Regions from separate parts of the Homo sapiens genome. Here all the other regions are linked to region 6. The links come from fine-mapping of genetic effects on gene expression. A gene starts in region 6. Each other region holds a variant in brackets. All regions are shown on one strand. Distances are between the middles of the regions.

Region 1 (4,237 bases), 96 kb before region 6:
AAAATGGTCAAACACCTTGGCTGGCACTTGAAGCCCATCTCTGTAGGGCTCCAGGACACCTTTCCACCCTTGTCTCCTAACAACCTGAACTGCCGAAACCCATCCTCTTAAATTTTGCACATAAACTGAATCCATCAGGCCGGGCACGGTGGCTCATGCCTGTAATCTCAGCCCTTTGGGAGGCCATGGTGGGTGGATCACCTGAGGTCAGGAGTTCAAGACCAGCCTGGCCAACATGGTGAAAACCTGTCTCTACTAAAAACACAAAATTAGCCAAGCGTGGTGGTGGGCTCCTGTCATCCCAGCTACCTGGGAGGCTGAGGCAGGAAAATTGCTTGAATCTGGGCGGCAGAGGTTGCAGTGAGCCAAGATCGCACCATTGCACTCCAGCCTGGGAAACAGAGCAAGACTCCGCCTCAAAAAAAAAAAAAGAAAAAGAAAAAAAAAACACTGAATCCATCTTTAGCTATTTGTCCCAGATCTCTTCCTTAAAACCTTCCCTGATCACCCAGCTCCAACTTAGTCTCAATTCCTATAGCATCTGTTTATGCCATTCACTTAGCCATTGAAGGGCAGGATACAATTTGCAGGGAGATAAGTGTAAATAGATCATTCCAGTAGAATAAAATGAGTAGAATATTTGTTCACAAGGTTACAAATCGCTGGAGAACAAAGCAACCAGCTGGGGAAAAATCAGGAGAAGTCTCCTTAAAGGATTTAACCCTTGAACCAGGTCTTGAAGGTTGAATAGGGATTCATGAGCCATTATGAGGTCAGGATTTCGGAGCAGGGAAAAAGACCCATCTCAGGCTGCTCAGGCTGGAAAGATTCGTGCAAAGGCATGGGGTAGGGCCGAGGGTGAATGAGTGGGCAGGTGGCAGGATATTGGATCAGGAAGACTGTAGCACGCTCCGTAAGGCTGTCGGGGGGAGTCCTGGAATGGTGCTGAGACACAGAGTAGGCCTTCAGGAAATATGTCCTGGGACGACCATCAAAACTGGGAGGGATTCCATTTCTCATTCCTGGAAGAGTCGGTCACTCCAAGCCTCAAAAAGTCAACAAACAAGAGCATCAAAGGGTCCATGGAGGGAAATCACTGGTCTTTAATCTCCCTGTCTTCTCTTTCAGCCCACACCCACAGCTCCAAGAAGAACTGGGTGTGAGGTCTCAACAGGCCCAAGCCTCTGTTTTCTGCTATGTAACCTGCAACTCCACTTAGCCATCTTGGAAAATGTTACATACAAGTTAAGGCTTTATTTCTGTCCTAAGATCTTGTAACTAGGACAAAACAGTAAAAGTAACCTTTTTTTTTTTAAAGAAAAAAGACTTGGCCAGGCACAGTGGTTCATGCCTATAATCCTACCACTTTGGGAGGCCAAGCCAGGTGGATCACCTGAGGTCGGGAGTTCAAGACCAGCCTGACCAACATGGAGAAACCCCGTCTCTACTAAAATACAAAATTAGCCGGGCATAGTGGCCCGTGCCTGTAATCCCAGCTACTCGGGAGGCTGAGGCAGGAGAATCACTTGAACTGGGGAGGTGGAGGTTGCAGTGAGCTGAGATGGCGCCATTGCACTCCAGCCTGTACAACAAGAGCGAAACTCCATCTCAAAAACAAAAAAAGAAAAAGAAAAAGAAAAAAGAGTTGTTCTTTTCTACCAATTGTAAAATCCTTTTCATTTCTCTAAGACATCTTTTTTTTTTTTTTTGGAACTTCACTGGCTTATGTTTGATATCTTAAAGGCGCAGATATTTTGTAACCCTCCCCCTTTACCATTTAAAAGAATTATAAAAATAGAAGTCCCAAAAAAAATCTTAAATGCAACCGCCACAGGGTCTTCCATTGATGCCAATTCCTACAGGCTTCAGT[G/C]GCAAGTATGTCTGAGCTGGTGGGAGCTTTGAAGTCAACTCTTTGAAGTGAGCCTGGTACTTTCTCAATACTAAAGGAAGTAAAAATGGAAGCTAAAAAATGAGGAGAAAGAACCAAAAAAGGGAAGAAGGCCCCTTTGAACACAAGAGCTCCCTGATTTCATCCCTTATCCAGAGTAACTCCAGACCAACTTGATTCTACGTATATCAGCAAAACACTTTTTATATATGAAACAAAGAAAAGACAGTGTCATCTCCCATAAGATTATAATTTATTAAAACAAGGTAAGACAAAAAAACAAACTCTAATACAACAATGAATGTGCAAAACACCATTAGAGAAACAGAAGAGGTAAGACACCAATGCTTGGAGAGAAGCTACTACAGTCAGGCCCTGTGTAAGGTACCCCAGCCACACCAGCTCCTGGGGGTTAGGTATCCTCTGCCCCATTTTGTAAGGCACTGAGAACATAAATTGACCCACTCAAGATCACTCCCCAGGTAAACAGATGGGTGAGACTGGAACCCAGGTCAAGCCACCATGTTCTTCCTATAGGGTAATTCCAAGAGGAGAGAAAGTATACCTGGCTGGGGTAGGGGGAAGGACCATGAGAGGCTTCATGAACAAGGGGGCCTTTCAGATGGAAATGGGATGACCAGGACTTTAGCTGGGAAGGAAGAACACTCCATGCAGGAGGCTCAAACACCCAGTTCCAGGAGAGAAAACAACGGGCAGGTTGGCTGAACTGGAACTCCGGCTACATCTCAGGGAATGAGGCTGGAAAAGGAGACATGGTAGAAGGTGCGGAAAGGCAAGGTAAAATGTGGCAGAAAGCAGCAGCCACCAAGGGAAGGGACATAACATCTGGGAAGGACGTTAAGAGCCTAGCACAGGACAGGTGTGGTGGCCCACGCCTGTAATCGCAGCACTCTGGGAGGCCAAGATGGGAAGATCGCTTAAGCCCAAGAGTTCAAGACCAGCCTGAGCAACACAGTGAGAACCCATCTCCACCACACACACACACACAAAAAAAATTTAAATTAGCCAGGCATGGTGGCACTATAGTCCTAGCTACTGGGGAGGCTAAGGAAGAAGAATCACTTCAGCCCAAGAGTTCCAAGCTGCAGTGAGCTATGACTGCACCACTGCACTCCAGCCTGGGTGATAGAGTGAGACCCTGTCTCAAAAATAAATAAATAAGGCCAGGCACAGTGGCTCACACCTGTAATCCCAGCACTTTGGGAGGCCGAGGCAGGGGGATCACAAGGTCAGGAGTTCAAGACCAGCCTGGCCAACATGCTCAAAATACAAAAATTAGCTGGGCGTGGTAGCGGGCCCCTGTAATCCCAGCTACTCAGGAGGCTGAAGCAGGAAAATCACCTGAACCCAGGAGGCAGAGGTTGTAGTGAGCTGAGATCATGCCACTGCACTCCAGCGTGGGTGACAGAGTGAGACTCCATCTCAAGAACTAACTAACTAACTAACTAAATAAATAAATAATGCTAGCATGTAACTGCTAGTTGTTAACAAAGACAGAAAAATCTTGGAGGTTCAATAGTTTCCAACTATTCTTCATGTTCTCCTCCTTCAGCTGTCTCAGCTGGTATACACCCACTAGCTCCCCTGTATGCAAAGGAACCTGGCCAAACGACTGACAGCCATCACTTCCCCTTCACTGCACCTCACCTATGCTTGCTTAATGTGTAAAACCCACATAAAATTTTTGGAGGTGAGATTCTTCCATGCTGAGAGCACTGACTCCTGGCCCTAATTTGCTGAAATCTCATATTCTCATTAATTATTCCAGCAAGGGCCTTAGAATTCTCAGAATTACCTAAAAACTAGGGCACACTGCACTTTAGACAACGTTCAACATGAGAGTCAAAAAAAACTTTGAATCCCTGGCCTAAGGATTAAGGTTCAGTGTCTCCACAACCATCATGTGAACACTGAACTTCACAGTTTCACCCAAATTGCATCAGTACAATAATTGACTTTTTTCACACCAACTTTACTAACACCCCCTCTGGGTTACAGGAGAAAGGGTCTAATTAGATTAAGGCTCAGAAAGATTACACACCTTGCCCAAGTTCACAGAACTGGTGGGGAGAGAGTCTTTGCCACTCCCTAAATGATGCTGGTTTATATAATGCATCGTTGCCTAGAATCTAAATACTGTCTATTAATTTGGGTCTCATGCTGGGAAATTACAAATTCAGTCATGATATACATGATTCTTGTCAAGTAAAAGGCTCTAAATATATCCATGCACAAATTAATCCGAGGTTCCAACATGTCAATACTAAAGACAGCTGAAATAATTACTGCTGCAAAAATAAATTAGGAACACAGAATATGTAAAGATAT
Region 2 (4,237 bases), 240 kb before region 6:
CAAGTTTGAAGCAGAAGTAAACACTGAAGGCTCTAGACTTTTGCTGCCCAGTTTGGTAGCCACTGGTCATGTGTGACTATTTAAATCTACATTTTAGTTAATTAAAATTAAATTAACTAAAATTTAAAATTTCATTTTTTAGTCGTATTAGAAATATTTCAAGGGCTCAGTAGCCACATGGCTAGGGACTAGCGTGTATTCACACGATAAGAACACTTCCATTATCATGGAAAGTTCTATTGGCAATGCTGATCCAGACCACAGCAGCTTCAGAAAACAGAATGTCTATCTAGAATGCAATCTCCATGAAGGCAGGAAAGGTCTCTGGCCTACGTACCACCACATCTCTAGAACAACACCTGGCATGTAATATATGCTCAGTGAGTCTTGTTGAGTAAATTATTAAATGACCTTAAAAGCCCTGAAATGAGTGAATAATTAAGTGAATTAGGCAACAATGAGACTCTGTGATATTGCAAACCACATTTATGAAAAAATTTTAATTACACGGAAATTGTGTAAAGTGCCTGAGACTATACGCCAATCCTTACACCTATTCTCTTCCTCTTTAGGAACAGAACAGAACCCTGAGTTTTCACTGCACACAACTCCACACACTATAAGAGATTATAGTTGGCAGGGTGTGGTGGCTCAAGCCTGTAATTCTAACATTTTGGGAGGCTGACAGGGATGGATCACCTGAGGCCAGGAGTTCGAGACCAGCCTGGCCAACATAGTGAAACCCTGTCTCTACTAAAAATACAAAAATTAGCCAGACGTGGTGGCACACATTTGTCGTCCCATCTACTCAGGAGGCTAAGGCACGAGAATCGCTTGAACCCAGGAGGGAGAGTTTGCAGTGAGCCAAGATGGCACCACTGTACTCCACCTGGGTGACAGAGTGAAACTTTGTCTCAAAAAAAAACAAACAAAACAAAAATTATAGTTCCCTGCCCCCTTTGAAATTAGGTTTCACCATGCTACTAATCGTTATCAAGATGAAAGCAAAAGTGCTATATGGCACTTTTGGAAAATCTAAAGGGAAAGTGATCAGTTTTTCCGCCTCCTTTCTCTGCTTCTGTCCCCTGGAATAGAAATGCAAAGCTAGAGTTGTGTTGTCCAATATGTCATCCACATGTGGCTATTGAGGCTTAACTTATTTAAAGTAAATACATTTAAAATTCACTTCCTGGGTCTCACTAGCCATATTTCAAGTGCTCAACAGACACTACGATATTTTTTCCCTATACCATAATGCTCAGAAGCATTGCCATATTGAACTGCACAGATATAGAATATCTCCATCAGAGCTGGACTTTCAACCTCTGAACTTTTTTAACTCTATCTCATTAAAAGTTGCTTTTTTCCCTGTTATATGCAGTCAAACCTATACCTAAATGAATACAAATAATTAATGGACAAAGGATACAAAATTATGTATCTGAGTAGTTTACAGCACTCTACTAGTTTTTCTTTAAAGAAAGCATGTTATATTGATTCTCTTAAAAATACATTTTTAATGTTGTGATAAAATCAACAACCAAGAGCTAACTACATGCTCTCTAGTGCTAAGTGGTATAATTAGATTATTACTACTTCTGTTCATTGAGAAGACATTTTTAAAATTTTATGACATTCTCTGTCTCTTAAAACAATGAAAAAATGTTTTCCTTTAACTTATGTGCTTCTTGCAGCAAGGCCAGAACAAAGTGAGTAATCAGCTCTCAACAGACCTAAGTCTCAACTCTCTTGAGGGTTGAGAGTAGGTGACATGATCCTTAAGAATTTTGACCATTCAATTAGAATAGATATTATCTGCCTGTGCAGTATCCAACCACTCAGAGTTCACTGATGGTGTTCTATCCATAGTTCTCAGAGAGGAAACCAAACCTGCCCATGAGTAAGGGACTCCTACCACAACCTGCAACCTAAAGTCCTAGCCTGCTTTAATACAAGCAAGATATCAAGAGAAAGGAAGGGTGCCTTCACTGTGTTTCATTCTGGAGCAAATGCTTTAAAATATACATTAACAAGATATAAAAGCATTAGCATAAAAGATTATAGGGAAGCTATTTTACAGTCAACATCTATTTAACAAATACTAAGTGAGTACCTATGATGCACCAGGTAGATGGCCTAACAGAGAATGTTTACGTTCAGAGAAGCAACGTGGCATGCGACAGAGAAGGTCTATTGAACTGCCTTAGAATGCTTGAACACTTTTGGGGTGGAATCAAGGCCTATTCTGAGTAGCTCTACAGGACAGAATGATCATTGTGAGATGCAGTCATCACACAAAATAAAATTAATAATCAGTTCTAATGATGAAGATGATGATGGCTAATATTTATTGATGACCATGTTCTGTTCTAAAAGCTTTGCAGGTATATTATCTGATTTAATATTCAGAATAATCCCTTTTTTTTCTTTCTTTCTTTTTTTTTTTTTTTTT[TG/G]AGGCTAAGTCTCACTCTGTTACCCAAGCTGGAGTGCAGTGGTGCTATGTTGGCTCACTGCAACCTCCGCTTCCCAGGTTCAAGTGATTCTCTTGCCGTAGCCTCCCGAGTAGCTGGGATTACACGTACGTGCCACCATACCTGGCTAATTTTTAGTACAGACAGCGTTTCTCCATGTTGTCCAGGCTGGTCTCAAACTCCTGACCTCAAGTGATCCACCTGCCTCAGCCTCCCAAAGCACTGTGATTACAGGCGTGAGCCACCACACCCAGCCAGAATAATCTTATAAACTTCATAGTATTGTTAGTCATTATACTCATGCATAAACAGTTGTTCAGGGAAGTTAAGTACTTTGGATCCTGGGTTGTGGCTCACAGGCAATTGGAACAGCCTAACAAATGTCAGAGCCTGAGCTCTTAAAATTTCAACAGGAAGATGTGCTCCTCACCATGAAAGTGTTCAAAAGGAACCTATAAGAATTAATATAGCAAGGATTGTGCATGAGCCTAAAGGGTTGGTTATTCCACATGCACTTAAGAAGTATCAACTATGTGCATGATATTTAGAGCTGCAAAGAAGAAGGGACAGTGGACAGTCCTGCCCTTGAGAGCTTACAGTCTATTGAGAGACAAACACATCAAATAATCAGAATTGAAGTGATAGGGCAATAATATGTAAAAATGACTGCAGAAAGGAGACATAAATTCAACCCAAAGAGGAGGGAAGTCAGAGAAGGTCTTATAAGGAAGATGACTTGAACCTAGGTCTTGAAGAATGTATAGGATTTTGCCATACAGAAAAGGGAAGTAAAGTCATTCCAAGCAGAAGCAGCAACATTTTCTCAGGGATTAATGATGGTCGTCTATGGACAGGGTTAATGGGAACACTAAGGGAAGTGAGAAGTTTGCTGGTGCCTTTAAAACCACTATTTACCTACGTGTTCAACCAGCACCTATAATAGAAAGGAAAAAGCCCTAAGATATATAGCACACCCATGATACTCCATCCCTCTGCTAGGGAAGCTGCATGAATTATTTCACCTGATTCTCAAGAAAAAGCAGAGGATGTTGTGCAAATTCAATGCCAATATGTGCAATTTTAAAGCCAACAGGGAACAACTTTATGATATTCTATAAATTATGTACAATTATATGAAACAATGGGGTAAGGCAGAGATGCTGAGAAGTTAACCAAAAGTGCAGACACAGACGATCTCATCTCCCTTCACCAAGAAATACTAATAGGCATTAAAAGAAATGGCCTTGCATGGTCACTTAGAACAAGGGACAGGGTCTGGAGTAGAAGTATGCTTGGACAGTATCACTCTCCCCTTCATTCTTTAAGTTAGGCCTAATAAGCATTTTCTAACATTTTGTATTTTTCACATCTGGATAAGACTAACAATGTTTTTGTGAAACACTGTATTTGTGAAAATATTTGACTTGATCTTTCCATAGTGATAAGTAGAATCTATGTCATTTTGATATTATTTTTTTACAAATGTTGGACATTGTGAGAAAGACCAGACAGATTTAAGGACCATCTCTTGTGAAAACATATCACAAGAACTAAAAATGCTCCAGGGACTTTTCTGGGGCTTATGGTCAGATGGTCCATGGTACAAGATACCAGGAGCCAACCAGAAGAAAAGAAAAGTCCCTGGATGTAATTTTCAAAGACATACTTGTCAACATTGTAGATCAGATTGGTGCCCTCCTTCCTAAATATTCCCTGATAATTCCTCTGGTTGGTTTCCTTTTTTAATGAAATAGAGTTTGTTATCA
Region 3 (4,237 bases), 260 kb after region 6:
AACAGAGCAAGACTCCATCTCAAAAACAGAAAAAAAAACATTAGATCCCAGGGTCCCTGTTGGTAGACTGAGGATTAGATATATCTGCCCTGAAGAATCATAACTCCTGTGGGCTAAGAAAAACTCTAATAGAACGTGTTTCATTTCTTCAGTGTGCCTTTAATGGTTATTGGAGGTATATTTATATAAAATAAATAAGGCCGGGCACGGTGGCTCACACCTGTAATCCCAGCACTTTGGGAGGCCAAGGCAGTCAGATCACCTGAGGTTGGGAGTTCGAGACCAGCCTGACCAACATGGAGAAACCCTGTCGCTACTTAAAAAAAAAAAAAATTAGCCAGGCATGGTTGCACATGCCTGTAATCCCAGCTACTCTGAGGGGAGGCTGAGGCAGGAGAATCGCTTGAACCTGGGAGGCGGAGGTTGCGGTGAGCCGAGATCGCACCATTGCACTCCAGACTGGGCAACAAGAGCAAAATTCCGTCTCAATCAGTCAATAATAAATAAATAAATATGCACTTAGACATATACGTAAAACTGGGGTAGTGTTTGGTTGACCTATCAGAATGAAGAAGTTTGATGAAGAATATACTGATGTTTGGCTGAGAAACAAAAGATTTTCATAAACATAGACGTGATAGATCAGGTTTTTAATTTCAGTTAGATTTTTATTTGCTGGGAAATGAATACTTTTGTTAATTTTTCTTTCCACTAAAATAATCTGTATGTTGTTTTCACAGTGGCATGGCAGAGAGAAATGCTAATTTTGAAGCCCTTCCTGAGGATTGGAGAGCAAGGCTGAAGAGAAGGAAAATGGCTCCAAACACATAGTTTTTAAGTTTTTAAAACTTTTTTGTATTATTGTTTGTTTTGTGTTCAGTTCAAAGTCTTAACCAGTTTTATTGTCAAATAAACTATAAATGTTATGGGGGAGATCTTATAAATTTCCTGGGCAAGAGTGTATGCATACAAAGTTTTCACTTTTGTGAAATGTAATTTTTCTGTTTTTGCAAAGGGATGAGGTGATTGGAATTGCTTTGACCATGCTGCCTTTATTCTCAAACTGGCAAACTTAGCATGTTAGGTGTATTAACCTCATCAGTCTTGAAGAACATGTGGCTCATGAGTATAACACTTCTGTAGAGGACTCCCTGACAAAAGTGAAGAATTAACTTCTCCTCCAGAACAAGTGCAATTCAGAAGGCAGCTCTGCATTCTACCTTGCTTGACTGGAATTGTCTGAAGCTTTTTCTGGCCTCTTTTCTCTAGTCGGCCACCCCTGAAGTGCTGAGGTCTAAGTGGTTTACCTCGTGCTGATAGATGGCCACACTCTTTAGAGTAGTTCTCATAAGTTCTAGAACTGGTAGCTCGGTCGTTTCGCACACTAGGTGGCATACAGGCAGCAGCAGGTGTTCATATCCTTGATTTTGAGAATTTCCCCTCAAGTATGTGGCAGTAAATACAACAAGACACTCTATGTATTAATGTCTCCATTGTCTTAACCCTGTTCCAAAACAAAATTCACCTCCTTTCTTTATGTGAATGTATTCTCCATAAAATTCCAGTATTTAAAAAGCAGTTTACTGTTCTGTACTTTCTGTTGTATCACAATCAGGTAAAAGTCACTTTAAACTGAGGAAACGGCAAATTGTGTTTTAAAGCTCTTTGTATTTCTCCAGTTTCTGACCTTGTAAATTTGTATATATGCACTAATAAAGCTTTTTTTATAATCCTGATGGGTTATCCTTTTGCTCGTCAACTCCTGTTATTCTGATTATGTAACCAGGACTTGTTTTTTTTTCTAAGCATATACAATGCAAGGTGCAAACATTTAACAACAGCTTTCAAGAAAATGAGCAGGAGATCTTTAATGGGGAGTGGTGGGGCCAGTTTAGACAAACAGGCTTCTAGTCCCAGATGGTGCTGTGTGATCAAAGTTTTGGGGTCTAATATTATCTATAATATCTAGATTGGTTAATAGCCATATTAGATAATATTTTACCTACTTAATTCCTGGCAATGATGTAATATGGTTAACATTTCAGAAAAAAAGGTGCTTTATAGCTTTTTTCCCCCCACTGATAAAAGTAACAGATACGGTTATATTCATATATAGTTAACCAAAGACACGTGTTTGAATTTTATTGTAGTATATTTATTTTTTTGTTGTTGGTTTTTTGTTTTTTTTTTTTCTGGAGACAGAATTTCGCTCTTGTTGCTCAGGCTGGAGTGCAATGGCACGATCTCGGCTCACCGCAACCTCCGCCTCCCAGGTTCAAGTGATTCTCCTGCCTCAGCCTCCCGAGTAGCTGGGATTACAGGCATGCGCCACCACACCCAGCTAATTTTGTATTTTTAGTAGAGATGGGGTTTTTCCATGTTGGTCAGGCTAGTCTCCAACTCTCGACCTCCCAAAGTTCTGGGATTACAGGCGAGAGCCACCGCGCCTGGCCTGGAGTAAATTTCTATGCATATAATTGATTTTTTTAAACCTAATCAAAATGTGTGATTTGAATTTGTTAGCTCTGTTTCTTAAGATTTGCAGTGTAGAAGGTAATTTTTCCTTTCTAGCTGTGCAGTGGAGAGAATGTTAAGGTGAAAGGAGAGAAGCAGCAGCTCTC[T/CT]TAGAGCAAATTATGCATAACAGTTATCTAAAGCCAACAGCAAACCAGCTTGGAAGTATGTTGAAGGCTACTGGCATCGTACTCATCAATGCGGTTTCGATTCCGAGGCTGGGGCTGTGATGTATGAGGGGAAGAAAGCCGCTGCCCGCCATACATGTTGCAGACCTTCCCGGGGTCCCCGCTCCCTCCTTGGGGGCGAGGCCTAGCTCCCCGGAAGCGCCCGACCGCCCCGCCCTTTCTCCGCTTCCTGCTTTCGGTTGCTAGACTACCCGGGCCCTCACAGAAGGCGGTGGCGGGCGGGTGCAGCGAGTTTGTCCCCTTGCCCGCACACTGCTTGGCCTCTGTACTTAAGTGCGGTGGCCGCCTGCCTCGCTGGAGCTTCTCTGCCGCAGCCATCCGTGCTGCTTGGGACGGGCCGGGGCGCGAAGGCGGTCGCATCCATCGCTCTGCCCTCCTGGGAAGTTTCTGCTCTCCTTCCCCGCTCCTACCCTTAGGAAACCCCCTCACCACCTGCCCCAGACCAGGTTCCTCTGAACCCTAAATTCAATCTTTAGGGCCCACTTTCCCAACCCCCTGACCTTTTTCCATCGGCACCTACCGAGACGACTTCGTCGCGTGCTCCCATACCCATTTCTTTCACTTTCCTGTGGCGAGCATCTCCTTTCTCAGGGAAAGGGAAGCATGGGGCCAGCACCTTGGGAAGAAGAAGCGGGAAGATACGCTGCCCTCCCTGTCTCAGATGCACCTCTGGCCTCGGCGTGACCACCTTGTTTAGCTGAGGAGAAGCTGGGTTGGCAGGGTTTTCTGAAGTCAAGAGGGAGCTGGGGGGCGCCCGGGGAGGTATTGGCAGTTTTTTCACTTGTCCTCTTGTGGCTTTGTAGCTTCTCTTGTGTAATCAGCTGCCTATTTGGAAATTGGGCAGGGTTTGCGACTGGATGCTAATGTCACTGACTAGTTTTCAGCCTACCATCCAGAAGTAACATGTTCCCAGCTTTGGAAACGCACCTAAAGCAGGTCGGTACACAACACGGAAAGCCACAGAAATTTCTTCGGGGAACTCCATTTCTTCGGGAACTCCACAGAAATCTGCTACTAGATGAGAAGGGATGTTCTGGTGGCATCTTTTCTCAGCTGGAGATCTTGATCCCCACGATAGAATAATTCGCATGGAATGCAGCTCGCTTGGTTTAGTCTAGTCCTATGCAACAACGCTCATGTACTTTTTGTTGAGTCTATTATGGTTTGAAAACATTATCTTGATTGAAGTGGCCTTTCCTTTCACAGACTATTCCTGATCCTTATGAAGACTTTATGTACCGTCACCTCCAATATTATGGCTACTTTAAAGGTAATACCATGTTCTTATCTAGTATCACCTTTCCTGGACTCAAGAGGAAAATTGCTTCGTTAGCTGGGAGGGTTGCACTTGGGTAGACTAATAAATAATTTGCATTGACAAATAAATACTTTTTCCTCTACCATTAGTGAAAAGTACTTCCTTTCCCCATTGATCTGCGGGTCACCTCTGTCAAGTAGACAGCATCACTTAATACAAAGGTCTGTTTCTGGGCTCTCTATTCCATTGGTCTGTTTGGCTATCCTTTACCAGTATCACT
Region 4 (4,237 bases), 41 kb before region 6:
ACCAGGCCTATCCCCACCAGCTTCCCCTCAGCTCACCTACTTCCTCCTGCATCTTCCCAGAAAGAGTCCTTGGGTCATCTCATTCAGCCACTTCCACACTTCTTTGTTTATCAGAAACACACACACCGGCAAGAGAACCCTTTCTTCCCACAAACCAAAATCCAAAAATGAAATGAACCCACGCTGCTCTGGCTGAAGCAAGGATGGAGGTCCAGAAGCCTCTTTCACTTGGTCTTGGCACTACCCCCACATCCACCCCTTACCACAGTCTAAGAAAAGCACTGTGCAAGTCAAACTTCTTCATTTTACAGGTGTGAAATCAGCACCCCAGGGGAAAGGGTCTGGCCCAAGGACATACAGTGTTAGAAACAGGCCAGAAGCCAGGTTTCCAAACTCACCAGACCAGGACTCTTCTCATGGCCCCACGCTGCATCTTCATCATCTTAATTTTTTTTTTTTTTCTTGAGATGGAGTTTTGCTCGTGTTACTCAGGCTGGAATGCAATGGCACGATCTCGGCTCGCTGCAACCTCTGCCTCCCAGGTTCAAGCGATTCTCCTGCCTCAGCCTCCTGAGTAACTGGGATTACAGGCATGCACCACCAGGCCTGGCTAATTTTGTATTTTTAGTAGAGACGGGGTTTCTCCATGTTGGCCAGGCTGGTCTCGAACTCCTGACCTCAGGTGATCTGCCTGCCTCGGCCTCCCAAAGTGCTAGGATTTACAGGCATGAGCCACCGCGCCCGGACTTCATCATCTTATATACAACCAACACTTACATAAAATTTACCATGGGCCTGAGGCACCCCTCTTCGTAGACTAACACATTTAATTCCCACAATAATGTAATGACACAGGTTCTATTATTATCTCCATTTTACAGAGTAGGAAATTGAGGCACGGAGATTAAGTAACTTGACCAAGGTCACCCAACTGGTAAGCAGCAGAGCAGGGGTTTGAACTCAGGCAGCCAGGCTCCATGCCCATGTTTCTTAAAGAGTTTGCCAGAAGGAATCACTTGCTGCCTTAGGTCAGGAATGGCAATACCATATTACTAACCATCTGACAAGTGAAATAATGAAGTATATCATCCAGAGTTTCCCTTAAAAGGCAAAGCAAAGTCCAATAAAAATGAAAAAACAAAACAAAACAAAACAAAACCCACAGACAATTGCACTGGAGATGACAATGAAAGGCTCAAAGCGCTAGACTCATATTAAAGCATCTTTGTCAGATTTCTTTCTCAGGTGCTGCATGCTTGGGGGAGGAGGGGCAGGGTGCAGTGCTCCTTAATCTACACAATGGCTGAGGGGCAGGGTGCCGTGCTGGTTAATCTACACAATGGCTGAAATTTTACAACCCATTCTCAATGCATCTGTCCTTTGGACACACCCATTTTTGGCTTCCTTTCCAACCCTGATGCCCCAAAACCTGGGGCTTCCATAACATCTATTAGAAATGGCCTGCGTATAAACCTTAACCTCTTTTTTTATTTATTTTATTTTATTTTATTTATTTATTTATTTATTTATTTATTTATTTATTTATTTATTTTAGGGACGGAGTCTTGCTCTTGCCGCCCAGGCTGGAGTGCAATGGCGTGATCTTGGCTCACTGCAACCTCCGCCTCCTGGGTTCAAGCGATTCTCCTGCCTCAGCCTCCCCAGTAGCTGGGATTACAGGCACATGCCAACACGCCCGGCTAATTTTTGTATTTTTAGTAGAGACAGGGTTTCACCATGTTGGACAGGCTGGTCTCAAACTCCTGACCTCAGGTGATCCACCCATCTCTGCCTCCCAAAGTGCTGAGATTACAGGCGTGAGCCACCATGCCCAGCAGCTTAACCTTTTGTTAAGGGTTCTGGGCTGGGCTGTGGCCAGTCTACTCTCCTACCACAGAAGAGTAAAATGCCCTGCATTCTCTTAAAAAAGTAAGAAAAATAAAAATAAATCACTGGTAGCCAGCCTGCCCTTTTGGGGATCTTTCTCTATCTCCATCTGAGAATCTCTTTCTTCACCCAACTCTGACACATGCCCCTCAAAATAAAGTCAGATACTCTGAGGTGGACTGTCCAAATCCCTTGCTGCTTTTTGGTTTCATTCACTTGCCCACGGGCTGTTCTTAGTGCATTTGCCCATCCAAACGTGGGAGGGGCAGGAGGAAGAGTAGGGACATCCAGCATTGGGACCCAACTCAGTCCGTGATACTTCCAGAAGCTCCATGCTGGAAGCTGGCAACTGTGGAATCGACAGGCAGCTTCGCTTCAGAGGGTTTTGAGACCAGTACCTGCTCAGCTGCTAACCCACCTAGGGTAACTGAGCCATGTCCGGCTGCAGTCTGAGCCTTCACTCTGCCCCCGGACTGCACTGCGTTCATTTACGAGATCTCCAAATGTGAGTTTAATGGAGGCAGATGTACAAGGGTTCTCACAAGCCCAGGGAACTCAACTTCTAGAAGGAAACGGGGCCACACCAAACAAGATGATGGGGCAATCAAGAGATACTCCCATAACAGCAAGAAACAAAGAGCATTCACGCCTCCTATGCCAACGCCCTCCACCACCAACGCCAAAAATTTC[C/T]GTATTTCATAACACCAGCTGAGATAACTGACTCAAATCTGTCCACTTCCACATTTGCATACTGGGTTCTGACATTTGCCTACCACTGAACAGTCACCAAGTAAGACGCAAGGTGGAGACGTACCCACAAAGCAATATTTAATGTCTTTGGATCGCCACTAGCTAAAACCTCCTGAAGTTTCACCAAACTCAGCTCTGTAAAACAAAAGAAAAAGAACAACACTATAAATTACAGCCTCGCCAGGATCTCGGGACATGCCTATACTTTGTATTTTATAAGTTCCGTATAAATACTGGAACAGCATAGAAACAGGGATCTCAGAAATAACGCCATTTTGAAGGCCACAGGACGAAACCCAACTATTCATTTCATTTTATTCTACTTCTTATCTCAAATACACAGTTCCTTTTCCTTTAACGAAAATATCGCTCTTTTTAAACAATATGTGATGCAAAGCAAATATAACAGGGTACCAACACAAATCTTTCCTGCCAAATTTATGGTTCCTCGCCTGTCCCCAGTTGCACCCAGAACCACTACCCCAGCCTATCGCTGTGTACACAACACGGACTAGGAATTCTAAAGAACTGCCTTAATCTCTCAGCTGTGTGCAGTGCGATAGGGTACGCTTGGATGCCAGTTTTTAAAAAGCAAATCAACTTTCCTCAAATTATTAAGATAAATAATTAGAAGGGGAAAGCTGCCGGCATTCAGTACAATAGGGGGGAAACCAAAACACTGAATGTTCCTGAGTCTCACACAGGGTGATACCTTGGAACAGTTAACACAGTACCCTGGCAAAATGTCCACCACATTTTTTCACCCCTTAACCTGAGTCATTATATTGTACTTTCTAGACGTGAGCAAATGTGATTGCTGAACAGGCAACACAGGGACTAGGGCCCCTTCCTGGAGGTTTCTCAGTGCACTCTAACACAATTAACTCCTCTCAGGCTCAGAGAAAGGAGGTGGGGTTCGGGGGAAGGTGGGGTGGAGGGGCAGATTCTAGTGAAGTCAGAGGCCTGGAGAGGCTGTCGCAGTGGGGCCAGGTGGAAGACAGGGAACCAGAAGGGCGGGATGCTTCCTCGTCACTGAAAATCCTCTTCTGTTGTTATAAAGGCCAAGTGCCCGCCCAGCCCCTGCCACATCCACGTTCCTAAACAGAGAGAGGGCCTTCCACAGGCAGGAAAAGGGCACAGAGACCGGGAGGCAGCAACTTAAACTCTTGGCAGCCTGGAAGGGCAGGACCCACGGGCTCACTCCACTTACCCCAGCCTTTCCACAGGCCCTCCTGAGAGGGGTTCTCCATCCCCCAAGACACACACACACAACACACACACGCACGTACACGCACACATACACAAGAAGAAAGCGTGGAGAGAGGGTAACTCGACTCCCCTGCCCCCCTCCCCACCAGCCTGCAGAGGCGAGGGGTCGGGGAGAAGGAGGGCCTCTGCTCTATCCTCCCAGGTATCTAACCCTCCCTGGGCAGCTGTCAGCTTCCATTTGCATGAATGAAAACTGTGGTCAACTGGTACCTGGGAGAGAACAAAGCAGGAAATAAAAGGGGCTGTCACTTACTCAAATCCAAAGCTCATCAAGTCTAACTAAAGGGAGTGCCACATTCCGCACCCCCAGTTCGGAGGGAAGGATTTGCTG
Region 5 (4,237 bases), 260 kb before region 6:
CCCTGTAATCCCAGCACTTTGGGAGGCCGAGGCGGGTGGATTACCTGAGGTCAGGAGTTCAAGACTGGCCCGGCCAACATGGTGAAACCCCGTCTCTACTAAAAATACAAAAATTAGCCAGGCATGGTGGCACACACCTGGAATCCCAGCTACTTGGGAGGCTGAGGCAGGAGAATTGCTTGAGCCTGGCAGGGTGAAGGTTGCAGTGAGCCAAGATCATGCCACTGCACTCCAGCCTGGCTGACAGAGCAAGACTCTGTCTCAAAAAAAAAAAAAAAATACACAGATCCTTCTTTTAAAATTATATCTATACGCATTCCTCCACGTGAAAATTTATTTTGCAGTGAAAAATGAAATATCAGTATGTGCTTTTTTAAAAAAGTGGAAATGTGTTTAAAAACAGGCAAAGGACATGAACAGACACTTCTTGAAAGAAGACATAGATGTCTCCAACAAATACATGAAAAAATGCTCACCATCACTAATCATTACAGAAATGCAAATCAAAACCACAATGAGATACTATCTCATACTAGTCAAATGGCTATTACTAAAAAGTCAAATAAAAAGATGCTGGCAAGGTTACAGAAAAAAAGAGAACAATTATATACTGTTGGTGGGGATGTAAATTAGTTCAGCCACTGTGGAAAGCAGTTTGGAGATTTCTCAAAGAACTTAAAACTATCAGTCAACCCAGCAATCCCACTATTGGGTATATACCCAAAGGAAAATAAAGCTTTTTACCAAAAAGACACATGTACTTGTATGTTCATCACAGAGCTATTCACAATAGCAAAGACATGGAATCAATCAAAATGCCAATCAGTGGTAGACTGGATAAAGAAACTGTGGCACATATACACCATGGAATACTATACAGCCATAAAAAAGTAGTGAAACCCTGTCCTTTGCAGCCACATGGATGCAGCTGGAGGCTGTTATCAGAAGTGAAATAACACAGGAACAGAAAACCAAATACCACATGTTCTCAATTGTAAGTGGGAGCTAAACATTGAAAACGGTTGGACACAAAGATGAGCACAATAGATACTAGGGACTACTTGAGGGGGGAGGGTGGGTGGGGGTGTTGGTTGGAAGGCTACCTATTGGGCACTGTGCTCACCACCTTGGTGATGGGATCATTCGTATACCAAGCCTCAGTGACACGCAATTTACCTATGTAACAAGCCCCAACACGTACCCCCAGAACCTAAAATAAAAGTAGAAAAAAATGGGAATGTAAAAGTTTCTAGCAGCTTCTATTCATAACAGCAAAAAAAAGAAAAAAGAAATCAACCCAATATCCACCACCACAAGAAAAAAAAATGTGTATACACACACACACACACACACGTATATGTATATTTACATATACACATGATTTTGGAATGCTACTCACTAAATAAAAATAATCATAACCCACAATATGGATGAATCCCAAAAATATTATGTTAAGTGAAAGAAGCCAGATACAAAAAGAGTACATGCTTTCATTTAAACAAGCTTAGGACAGGTTAAACTAATTCATGATGATAGAAATTAGATCAGTAGCTGCCTGAGGAGGGGAGGAGATTGCCTGGAAGAAGTCACAAGAGAAGTTTCCAGAGTGATAGAAATATTCTGCATCTTGTTGGGAAGTTGGTTCACAGAAGTATAAATTTGTCAAAACTCATTAGATTGTACACTTAAGGTCTGTACATTTTGCTGAATGTAAATTTTACTTCAATTACTGAGAATATATTTTAAATGTTATCACGACAAAAACAATAACTTTGTGAAGTAATGCAAGTGAATTGGCTAGATTTTGTTATTCCACAATGAGTGTGTGTGTGTGTGTGTGTGTGTGTGTATCAAAATGTGTCATACATGATAAATACAATTTTATCTGTCGACTTTTTTTAAAGTAAAAACTAAACAAAATTATTTTCATAAAGTAAAACCTAACTGAGATGGGAAACCACAATGAAGGAAACTTCTGGTCTGGGAATCAGAATATCTGAGTTTGTGCCCACGCTTTGTGCTTGATTTACCCTGGAGCAGAAATCACTAGTGTTCCTAATTATTATTTTCTCCTTCTTCCTTCTATAGTATTAGAATCCCTGAATTTTTATGAGGGCACATGCCTACCTGGAATGAAAATTACATTAC[C/A]CAGCCTCCCTTGAAACTTCAAGGAAGGGGACATGTCTTATTTCATCTCTTCCTGCTTTTGGATAACAGGATGCTGCCATTATGACTGGAGCTCCATCAGCCATTTGGGGCCATGCAGTGACCTTGGGAATTAATACTATAAAGGATGGAGAAACAAGATAGAGAACATTTCTATCCCAGACTGTGAACTTCTTGACTTCTATCTTGGTTTAGATTCTGATCCTTGCAGCTAAAACCTAATCTAAATGATGTTTCATCTAAAACTGTACATTGAGAATGATTAATTCATATTTCATTGACATCACAGGATTACAATGAGACGCCAATGAAGTAATGAATGTGAAAGGGCTTTGAAATATGCATAGGGTATTATGCAAATATAGGGTATATCAATTAATAAGTTCAAATATGGATTTCATGTATTAGTTTGGACAGTTGGTATTTTTTGTTGCAAGACAATATATGAACACTATTTCGAGCTCTCAAATAAGTTCTTTTCTGGCTGCTTCAAGCAATCTCACTTCTGGCTCAAGCCCTTCCCAAATGATAAAAACTAATAATGCCGACATCATTTTGATATATTTTATTCCTTCCACAGCTCTTGAGCATCCACCACCTGTCACTCATCACACGAAGTGCAAAAGCAGCAATTCACCTAAAATCAATTCACCAACTATAGTTTGCCAGATGGTCAAATTACCAACAGTCAATTCACAAGATTAACCAATTCAGCAATTTTGCTATCAGGCAAATGGCCAGTCCACTGAATTATCAATTCACGAAAGATGTGCTTCTACTTCCAATCTCAGCTAATCCTTTTCCTCTTAATTAAGAAGCTCTAAGGAATCTGGATTGTAAAACATTCACAAAGTCAGCATTCAACACGTCTGGATCAACAAATCCATTGAACTTAAAGAAAAGCAATTGAGTTATGCCAACTTGGCAGAAATTTGCAAACACAATTTCCAGACAGTTAAATCAAGGGCAAAGCCCTCAAGGTAGCAGAAAGGACATGTTCAATGCCCATGCTCAGCAAAATCATTGTAAAGAACTATGAGGTAAGTGTACCAGGTCTAATAAATATTAACCACTTTTAGTCCAGTACGTTGACTTTTCTATTCTCCTTTGATATGCATATTTGTCAGGTCAAGTCTAAAGAGTTTGTGTAACATTAACAACCACAGAACCTCAGCAGCATGCAACTGGAAGCATTTATTCTCATGTTCATGGGTCTGCAGGTGAGCTGGGGAAGCTCTTCCTCAGGCTGCAGTTTGGTGGGTCGGCTAGAGAAGTTCTGTTCCGTATGTGTTCATTTGGCAGTTCAGGCTGTAGTGCAGCTGCTGCCTATCATCTCATGATCGTGGCAGAGACACAGGGGGGCAAACAAAAATACACAAGGCCTAGTAAGGCCTAGGCTCTCACTGAGGCATTGTCATTTCCACCCACCCATGCCATTAGCCAAAGCTAGTCACATGGCTAAGCCTAAAGTCAGGGGATGGAAACATACACTCCTTCTGATGGGAAGAACTGCAAAATTACAAGGAGCAGGGCACAGGCAAAAGAAGAAGTAAAGAACTGGGGCGGATCATTCAATCTGATTCAGGTAAGTTTGGTTAGCACACGTGAAAACATATCCAGGTAAAATTCCTCATCTGTTACGTATACATGGGTCCCTTTCTTGAGAAAAGTCAATTCAAGAATGAAGAAAAATAAGAAAGACAGTTGACTAGATTGAAAATTCACTGGAAGAGTGAAACAAACTTATATAAAATCCTTGATATTCATTAATTACCAGAAAACTGAAATTGAGAATACACAAAAATCCTCCTCCCCCAAATACATCGCTTATTGCAGGCATCTGCAAAACATAAGTGCTATAGATTTTACAAAGGATTAACAGAAATAGGTTTTGAGGAATCAAAAGTTCAGTAAATTAGTTATGTGGTAATTCAGTTAAATTAACAAATTGTTATTTGGCAAATTTATCTGTAATGAATTGGCCAGAACCAGAACCCAAGGATACATATGCAAACAAGACCCAAGCTCTGGGAGCAAAGATGGCCGAATAGGAACAGCTCCAGGCTGCAGT
Region 6 (4,237 bases):
CCCAGGTTCTCTGCAGGAGGTCACATTGCCTTCTGGCCCCCAGGAGAGCCTGTGCAGAACCTGCTGGGGAAACTGCGAGGAGAGACCCTTGGGTGCCGAGGGTCACGCAGCCCCCAGGCCCCAGCCCCCTTCTCCTACAGCCTGCTAGGCGGCATTGCTGCCCCAGGGTGATGCTTCTGCTCTCTCCTGTATTCGCGCTGGAGAAGTTTTCCCTGAAACCAGGTTCCATCCCCAGCCAATAACTCATTTCCTCAGAGATGGTGTCTGTATAAAACAAGCAAGATGGTCATTTGCAGAAACGCACAGCAAGGCAGCCCTAGACCGCTTCCCCTGCGGGTTCAAACCCCAACAGGCTCCAGAGGCTAAGAGGACGTGCCCGCTGGCTCAGCTCCCATGGCACGGGCTGGGTGCTCCGCTATTTCACTTCTCTCCCTCAGTTCCCCATCTGTGAAATGGGAATGCCCCTTCAGCTGCTCTGCCTCAGCCCCTATGGAAATGCCAGGAAGGGGAAAGGTCGGTCACCAAAACGCCAGGGACAGCATTATCTGAAAAGTGAAGCCAGAAAAGAGGGTGAGGGTGGGGTGGGGAGGGGGAGCCAGCGCCCACAAAGCACGAATTAAACACCCATGAAATCAAGCACGACGCCAAGAGGGCCGGCTGCCTTGAGAAAAGCCAGCGTGCGGCCACCTTTTCCCCGGCCTGGGAACTTTCCCCAGGAACAGGGCCCTCGGCCCGGAGTCCCGCGCCTCGCCCAGGGCCCCACTGCCCAGCGCCTGGCCCTGCCCTGTCGCCCCCGCCGCCCCTCGGGCCCCTGCAGGCCGGGTCGGAGGTCTGTCGGCAAAGGCTCAGCCAGGCCGCCCGGCTCTGCGTCCCCAGACCTCCGCAAACACGCCCCCTCCGGCCGCCTCCGGCTAGGAAGCCGGGCCCGTGCCCGCCAGATGTGCCCAGCGCCGGGAAGAGCCGGGCCAGGGACGGCCTGGAGCCCGCGCGGAGGCTTTCCCCGGGAGGCTCGGGCACCGCGGCACCCGGATCCCGCCTCTCTCCCCCGATCCTGGGCAGCCGGAAAAGGGATCGATCGCCGGCGTGCGAGGCCGGCCGGGGTCCCCGCAAGTCGCCTTCCGGGGATCCGGGGATCCGGACCCCCGCCCCCTTCCCCGGAACCCCCCGGGGGGGTACGCTCGGGCAGGTGCAGTCAATGCCAGTCCCGCCCCAGCCTCCTGCCCCCCGCCCGAGCCCACCCGGCGCTTACCTGGCCCAGGCGCAGCAGCAGCAGCAGCAGCGGCAGCGCCCAGCGCAGCCCGGGCGAGCGCGGAGGCAGCCGCGCCTCCCGCGCCGCCGGCTTCATGCCCCGCGCGCCCTGGAACGTGCCCCGGACGCGCGAATCGGGCCCCGCCGTGCGCCCGAGCCCGGGCACCGTCGTCGCCGCCTCCTGCCGTCTCCTTCGCCTCCTCCTCCGCCAGCCGGTCCGCCTCGTCCCCGCTCCGCCCGCCCCGGGCTTCCCCGGAGACATGGCAGCGGCGGCGGCGGCCGCGGCCACACGCCGGAGCCTAGCGCGGCTGCCGCGGGGGGGCCGCGTCCCTGAGCGCGCAGGGGCTTCGCGGGGCGGAGCGAGCGGCGCCCACCCCCAGCGCGCGGCTACCCGGTCCCGGCTCCCGCGGCTGCTCCCGCTGCCTCCTCCGCGCGTCATGCGGCTGGGGCTGCTGCAGGGAGCCGCGGCGAGCGCTCGGCCCCCTCCCTTCCCCTCCCCCTCTGAATATTCATCGCTTCCTCCCGCCCCGGCCGGCCCGGCGGCTGCGGAGCTCCGCAGCCCCTCGCCGCCGCCCGCCGCTGCCCCCGCCCCCTCCGAGCCGGCCGCGGATCCCCTCCCGCGGGCAGAGGAAGCGCTCCCGCCTCGCCCGCCCCTCCGCCCAGCCCTCCCACATTCCTGGGACTTGGAGCCCGGGACCAGGCTCCGTGGCTCTAGCGCCTCGAGCCGGCACCCCTCAGGACGGGCTCCCCAGCCTCACACCAGGTCCACGGCGCCGGGTTCGGGTGGGCAGAGGTTGACCGAGACCCCTACTGAGAGCGCAGCCAAGCCTGATTGTAGACAGCAACCCGGCGAAGGCGCGTTTGACCTGGCCCTGGGTGGGCTTGGGGGTGCGTGAACCCCGAAATTGTAGAAGGCACGCTGTACATTGTGTTCTGTCCCCCAGCCCCCGAGCGCCGGCCAGGGAGGCAGAGAGCCCAGTACAAGCCAGTCCAGGGATTAGAACCCCAGCTGTGGCATATGGTGGACGGGGCTCTGCTGGTAGTACCAGCCCTGTGAACTCTGGAGACGCATTTCTCCTCTCTGGCCGACCCCACCCACCCTCCTCTCCTCCCGTGTGAAATAAAGATCGTACTAGGACGTGTGGAGAGAGAGGTCCACTGCATTCGCGATTAAACGAGACAGTAGTTAGTAAAGTCCTAAACACCTAGCCTGACACATCGTGGGACTCCACATACATTAGCTCTTCTGGAAGCTTTCATCACGTTGTTAAAGAGGTCAATGAACTGACAGGAGTTAAAGATCACAGCAGATATTACTCCTGTGCCCATGCACAGAGGAAGACACTAGGATCAGGGAGGCTATGCCACTTGCCCAGGAGAAGCCGCAAGAGAAAGGGCCAAACCAGAGAGTGCTAAGGAGGAAGAGGTTAATTCCAACCAGGAGAGAGGTGACACCTGAGCTGGGCTTTGAAGGATGTGTTGAGTTTCACCAGGCCAGTAGAGGGGAGAAGTGTCTCAGGAGGTGGGGCCAACTTGGCAGAAACGAGGCAGCAGATGCTTCGAGCTTGGCCTTCGGAGAAACAGGAATGGGAGGCTGGGGGATTCATACTGGGGGAGACTTCAAAGGCCAGGATAATGAGTCTAGGCTGGATTCTGTGTGCAGCAAGATGCAGACCACGAGGTGTCCAACACTACCTCCAGACACCCGTTGGGCCTCAGGTTACCATCTACAAGATGGGAATACACATTCACTTACAGGGTCTAAGTGGTTCCCACCAGACAACACACCCAGACAAGCACTGAGGATAAAGAAACTTTGCCAGGCCGCACGATGGCTCACGCCTGTAATCCCAGCACTTCCGGAGGCCAAGGTGACTAGATCACTTAAGCTCAAGAGTTCGAAACCAGCCTGGGCAACGGGGTGAAACCCAGTTTCTACAAAAATTAGCCGGGTGTGGTGGCACACAGCTGTAGACTAAGCTACCTGGGAGGCCGATACAAGGATGGCTTGAACCTAGGCTGCAGTAAACCAAGATGGCAACACTGCACTCCAACCTGGGGAATAACGTGAAAACCTGTCTCAAAAAAAAAAAAAAAAAAAAGAAGAGGCTGGGCGTGGTGGCTCACACCACACCTGTAACCCCAGCACTTCAGGAGGCCGGGGCAGGCAGATCACTTGAGGTCAGGAGTGCGAGACCAGCTTGGCCAACATGGTGAAAACCCATCTCTACTAAAAATACAAAAGTTAGCTGGGCGTGATGGCGTGCCTGTAATCTCAGCTACTCCAGAGGCTGAGGGCAGGAGAATCGCTTGAACCCGGGAGACGGAGGTTGCAGTGAGCCAAGATTGCACCACTGCACTCCAGCCTGGGTGACAGAGTGAGACTCCATCTCAAAAAAAAGAAAAGAAAAAGAAAAAAGAAACCTTACCTATGGACTTACACACCTTGCCACCCTTCATTTAAACACTATGTAATTATCATAATTCACAAGGATTTTTGTTCCTCTGTGCCTCCTCCCCTCTTGAGGCAGAGACATAAAAGGTGTTCATGTCCATGATACCCAGAGGGAAGGAAAGCTTGATTTAAGATGCTACCAGGGGGCTGGGCACAGTGGCTCACGCCTATAATCCCAGCACTTTGGGAGGCTAAGGTGGGCGGATCACCTGAGGTCGGGAGTTCAAGACCACCTGACCAACATGGAAAAACCCTGTCTCTACTAAAAATACAAAATGAGCTGGGTGTAGTGGCGCATGCCTGTAATCCCAGCTACTCGGGAGGCTGAGGCAGGGGAATCGTTTGAACCCAGGAGGCAGAGGTTGCAGTGAGCAGAGATCGCGCCATGGCACTCCAGCCTGGGCAACAAGAGTGAAACTCTATCTCAAAAAAAAAAAAAAAAGATGCTACTGGGTAGCCAAGGATGATTGCCAATTATAAAAAAGAAAAAGAAGATGATAGTAGGTCTGCAGGCTGCCTCGGATCCTCACAGAC
Region 7 (4,237 bases), 26 kb before region 6:
CGCATGCCTGTAATCTCAGCTACTTGGGAGACTGAGGCAGGAGAATCGCTTGAACCTGGGAGGCGGAGGTTGCAGTGAGCCAAGACCACACCATTGCACTCCAGCCTGGGCAACAAGAGCAAAACTTCAACTCAAAAAAATAAAAAATAAATAAATAGGCCAGGCATGGTGGCTCACGCCTGTAATCCCAGCACTTTGGGAGGCCGAGGCAGTTGGATCACGAGGTCAGAAGTTCAAGACCAGCCTGGCCAAGATGGTGAAACCCCGTCTCTACTAAAAATACAAAAATTAGCTGGGCGTGGTGGCACATGCCTGTAATCCCTGCTACTCGGGAGGATGAGGCAGAGAATTGCTTAAACCCAGGAGGCGGAGGTTGCAGTGAGCCAAGATCACGCCACTGCACTCCAGCCTGGGCCACAGAGCGAGACTCCGTCTCAAAAAATAAATAAATAAATAAATTGTGGTGAAAGGTGTGGAACATCTGAAGCAGGCATGGGCTCAGCCTAAGGGTCCACGCATGGGCTCAGCCTCCCCTCAAAACAGATTCCAGAGTTCAGAAGACACCTTCAACTCTTCCCCAGAAGTAACAGATTTCCCTCCAGCAGATCACCTGGCACGTGTCAGAACTCAACCCTAAAAGCCCAATTCAGCCTCCATTAAAAACAGGTCAAAAATAGATACGTTACTGAATACCCTGTGTGCTCACCACTGTATCTTTAGTGTCGGGAAGAAGGGGGCAGAAAGAACCAGGAACTGGAGCCAGGAACCTGGGCTCACAGTGATATTAGCTGTGTGGTCTTGGGCAAGTCACTTCCCCTCTCTGCGCCTTGGTTTCAACATCTCTAAAGTAAACGGTTTGCATTAGATGACCCTCAATGACCCTTCCTGCTCTGGGCCTGCCCAGTTTTATAAGTGACCAGTGACTGTACATCATGATGTCAACTCACAAGTACAGCTCCTACCAGCTTGCTGCTGCCTGGAGGGAAGACAGCAGGAACGCACAGAAGAAAAAGGCCTCAGCCGGGTGCAGTGGCTCACACCTGTAATCCCAGCATTCTGGGAGGCGGGCAGATCACTTGAGGTCTGGAGTTCAAGATCACCCTGGCCAGCATGGCAAAACCCCATCTCTGCTAAAAATAGAAAAATTAGCCAGGTGTGGTGGCACATGCTTGTAATCCCAGCTACTCAGGAGGCTGAGGCACAAGAATCGCTTGAACCTGGGAGACGGAGGTTGCACCAAGATTGTGCCACTGCACTACAGTCTGGGTGACACAGTGAGGAAAAAAAAAAGAAAAGAAAAAGGCCTGGCCCCGTGTGGTGGCTCATGCCTGTAATCCCAGCACTTTGGGAGGCCGAGGTGGGCGGATCACGACGTCAGGAGATCGAGACCAACCTGGCTAACATGGTGAAAACCCATCTCTACTAAAAAAAAAAAAAATACAAAAAATTAGCCGGGCGTGGTGGCAGGCACCTGTAGTCCCAGCTACTCGGGAGGCTGAGGCAGGAGAATGGCGTGAACCCGGGAGGCGGAGCTTGCAGTGAGCAGAGATTGCGCCACTGCACTCCAGCCTGGGAGACAAAGCGAGACTCAGTCTCAAAATAAAAAAAGAAAAAAAAAAGAAACAGGACTCATAACTAGGTCCCCTATGAAGCCACTGGTCACAGTAAAGGGGAACACATCAGACTGCTCTCTAATTTGGGAGTATGGGTAGAATTCTGATTTCATATTTGAAAAATCATCTAACCTTTATCATATATGCCTAGCTTCATATTAAGACAAAGGTATTCATTTCATTAAAAAAAAATGACTGACTCATAACAAGCCAGCAAAATAGAGTCAGAACAAGAGCAAGTCATCACGATACCAATGCCAAAGGGGAGGTTTCTGTCTTTATTTTCTAACTGGCAATGACAAGCTTTTTACAAAACCCAGGCAAGCTGCAAGTCAGTGATAAAGGGGATGGTCCGCCTTGCCACTTGAACAGAGACAGGCCCAGATAGGCAAGGACACTGGGTGACCTTTAAGACCCAGAAAGACCTCACTGGTTTTAAGGTAATGCTCAGTAGGAATGAGGGAGGGGTGTGCCAGGGGATGGAAGGGGGCTGCTGACACTGTGTGAGTCAGTACCAGACTCTTTGCAGAAACAAAGGCTCAGGTCCAAATATGTACTAGGAAAAACTGACAGTCTCTGGATTATAACCAGCTCACTGGCCTCCACGTGGGAGCTTTTGCAGGGTTCAGAGCTTCTCTGAATGGGCAGGGATGTCCATCCAGATGACCAGGCTACTTCCTCCCACACCTGCCTGCACCTGCTGCATGTCCCTCCCCGCCCCTAGATTATGAGCTCTGCAGGTTCTAGCAGATTCTGCCCTCCTTTCCCACTCCACCTCTCTCGCCTCCATCCTCTCCCTCTCTCTCTCTCTCTCCCA[C/T]TCTTCCTCCCGAATCACCCTTGAGAGAGGCAGGAAGCCACAAGAGCCCCAGGTTCCAGATGAGGAAAGTGATGCTCAAAAGAGACAAGATCAGCCCAAGGTCACATAGGCTGCACCAAGAGTCCAACCCACTCTCCTAACTCGAAGTCTTGTTTCTCCCATCACAGCGGTTCTGTGGGTGCTGCTCTGAAACATCTCCTCTTATCCCACAACCACTCAGCCTTGCCCAACCAGGTCCAGCCTGCTGCCTCTCTCCAGCACCACACAGCCTCTGGGCCCCTCCCAGCCAAGACCACTGCAATCGCCTGGCCCAGCAGGGGCAGGTGGCTGCAAGCTGGCTAAGAGCCGGACAGGGCTGCTATCTGCCATTGTCTAGCCATGCAGCTTATTTAACCTCACTGAGCCTGAGTGCCCTCATCTGCAAAAAGGGGATAATAACCCTGTCTCAGAGAGTCCCTTAAAAGAAAGGAAGCACATGAAGCTTGCCCTAAACCCAGCCCAGTAAGGGCAGACACACACACAGGCTCCTCACAGCCCACCCCACCCAAAGGCTCCAAACACCACTCCCCAGTTCAAAATCCTCCCACATTGAAAACCCGTGGCCACACAAACACTGGTAGACAAACGTTCATAGCAGTGTCACTCACAATAGCCAAAAAGTAGAAATGACCCAAACGACCATCAGCTCATAAAAGGATAAACAAAACATGGTATCTCTCTGTGATGAAATATCATTCAGCCATAAAAAAAGAACAAAGCAGTGATACCTGCTCCAACATGGATGGACCTTGAAAACACTATGCTAGGCGAAATAGCCAGAATCAAAAGGACACACAGTGTATGATTCTACTCACATGAAATACATAGAACAGGTAAATTCACAGAAACAGAAAGCAAATTGGTGGTTGCCAGGAGGTGGGGGAGGGAGAAATCAGGAGTGAGCACTCGTGGGCATGGGGTTTCTTTTGTGAGTAACGAAAATATTCTGGAACTAGACAGCAGTGATGGTTGCACAATTCTGAATATACTAAAAACAACTGAACTGTATGCTTTTTTTTTTTTTAAGATAGAGTCTCACTCTGTCGTCCAGGCTGGAGTGCAGTGGCATGATCTCTGCTCACTGCAACCTCCACCTCCCAGGTTCAAGTGATTCTCCAGCCTCAGCCTCGCAAGCAGGTGGGATTAGAGGCACCCACCACCATGCCTGGCTAATTTTTGTATTTTTAGTAGAGACGGGGTTTCATCATGTTGGCCATGCTGATCTTGAACTCCTGACCTCAAGTGATCCACCCACCTCAGCCTCCCAAAGTGCTGAGATTACAGGCATGAGCCACTGCGCCCAGCTTTGAACTGTATACTTTCTAAATGGATGAATTTTACTGTATGTAAATTATATCTCAACAAAGCTGGTATTTTTATATTGCCATCAAAAATACAAAACAATAAAATGATTAATATTTACAACATGAAAAGAAAATCCTTCCATGATACCTCATTCTCTACAAGATAGAATCTAAATCACGCAGGCATCCTCCAAGTCCAGCCCCAGCCTACCTTGCCGCAAACACCCTGCATTTGCCCAGCAAGACCTCTCACTGTACCCCAAATGAGTCTTCCCCCCTGCAGGCCTGGGCTGCTAACATTCACTGCCACAGCAGCAACAGTTACTCACTTGGCCTGATTCTTGTCTCAAGTCCTGGCTGTTCCTTTGAGGCCTGCACTGCCTATGACTTGAAACTCTGACCAGCCCATCTATCTCCCCAACTAAGCTGGAGCCTCCTTTAAGGAAAGACACCTGGACCAGCCT

Direction of the effects. Alleles are on the strand shown, and positions count from the first base shown. SD is a standard deviation of normalised expression in the study named. Not every link is listed here.
As copies of G replace C in region 1, the expression in tibial nerve of the gene that starts at base 1,699 in region 6 goes up (small effect, 0.24 SD a copy in GTEx).

What was found. PIP is the estimated chance that this variant, and not a neighbour inherited with it, causes the effect.
Region 1: its variant is the best candidate, but not a certain one, in a credible set for the expression of PTPRJ in tibial nerve (GTEx, PIP 0.82).
Region 2: its variant is the best candidate, but not a certain one, in a credible set for the expression of PTPRJ in whole blood (INTERVAL, PIP 0.64).
Region 3: its variant is the best candidate, but not a certain one, in a credible set for the expression of PTPRJ in whole blood (INTERVAL, PIP 0.74).
Region 4: its variant is the best candidate, but not a certain one, in a credible set for the expression of PTPRJ in whole blood (TOPMed, PIP 0.62).
Region 5: its variant is the best candidate, but not a certain one, in a credible set for the expression of PTPRJ in whole blood (TOPMed, PIP 0.62).
Region 7: its variant is the best candidate, but not a certain one, in a credible set for the expression of PTPRJ in whole blood (TOPMed, PIP 0.83).

What each region holds. Positions count from the first base shown.
Region 1 is chr11:48,074,258-48,078,494 of GRCh38, reverse strand. All of the region lies in intron 1 of PTPRJ (protein tyrosine phosphatase receptor type J), which reads right to left. Among named protein-coding and RNA genes, the nearest start is that of MIR3161, 20 kb to the left of the region's middle. The variant G/C (reference allele first, on the strand shown) is at 1,871.
Region 2 is chr11:48,218,201-48,222,437 of GRCh38, reverse strand. No RefSeq gene overlaps it. Among named protein-coding and RNA genes, the nearest start is that of OR4B1, 3.5 kb to the right of the region's middle. The variant TG/G (reference allele first, on the strand shown) is at 2,453.
Region 3 is chr11:47,714,016-47,718,252 of GRCh38, reverse strand. AGBL2 (AGBL carboxypeptidase 2) reads left to right here and starts at 2,884. Exons shown (of 19, transcript NM_024783.4): 1 at 2,884-3,078; 2 at 3,503-3,635; 3 at 3,906-3,969. The coding sequence starts at 3,603. FNBP4 (formin binding protein 4) reads left to right here. Exons shown (of 17, transcript NM_015308.5): 17 at 741-1,759. The coding sequence ends at 831. RefSeq lists an enhancer at 3,147-3,206. The variant T/CT (reference allele first, on the strand shown) is at 2,622.
Region 4 is chr11:48,018,692-48,022,928 of GRCh38, reverse strand. All of the region lies in intron 1 of PTPRJ (protein tyrosine phosphatase receptor type J), which reads right to left. Among named protein-coding and RNA genes, the nearest start is that of PTPRJ, 40 kb to the right of the region's middle. RefSeq lists an enhancer at 2,364-2,423 and a silencer at 3,504-3,553. The variant C/T (reference allele first, on the strand shown) is at 2,578.
Region 5 is chr11:48,236,761-48,240,997 of GRCh38, reverse strand. No RefSeq gene overlaps it. Among named protein-coding and RNA genes, the nearest start is that of OR4X2, 6.2 kb to the left of the region's middle. The variant C/A (reference allele first, on the strand shown) is at 2,149.
Region 6 is chr11:47,978,021-47,982,257 of GRCh38, reverse strand. It overlaps PTPRJ (protein tyrosine phosphatase receptor type J), which reads right to left and starts at 1,699. Exons shown (of 25, transcript NM_002843.4): 1 at 1,250-1,699. The coding sequence starts at 1,345. RefSeq lists silencers at 669-1,098, 1,199-1,788.
Region 7 is chr11:48,004,478-48,008,714 of GRCh38, reverse strand. The region is part of intron 1 of PTPRJ (protein tyrosine phosphatase receptor type J); the gene reads right to left. Among named protein-coding and RNA genes, the nearest start is that of PTPRJ, 26 kb to the right of the region's middle. RefSeq lists a cis regulatory region at 1,939-1,956 and an enhancer at 1,875-2,019. The variant C/T (reference allele first, on the strand shown) is at 2,431.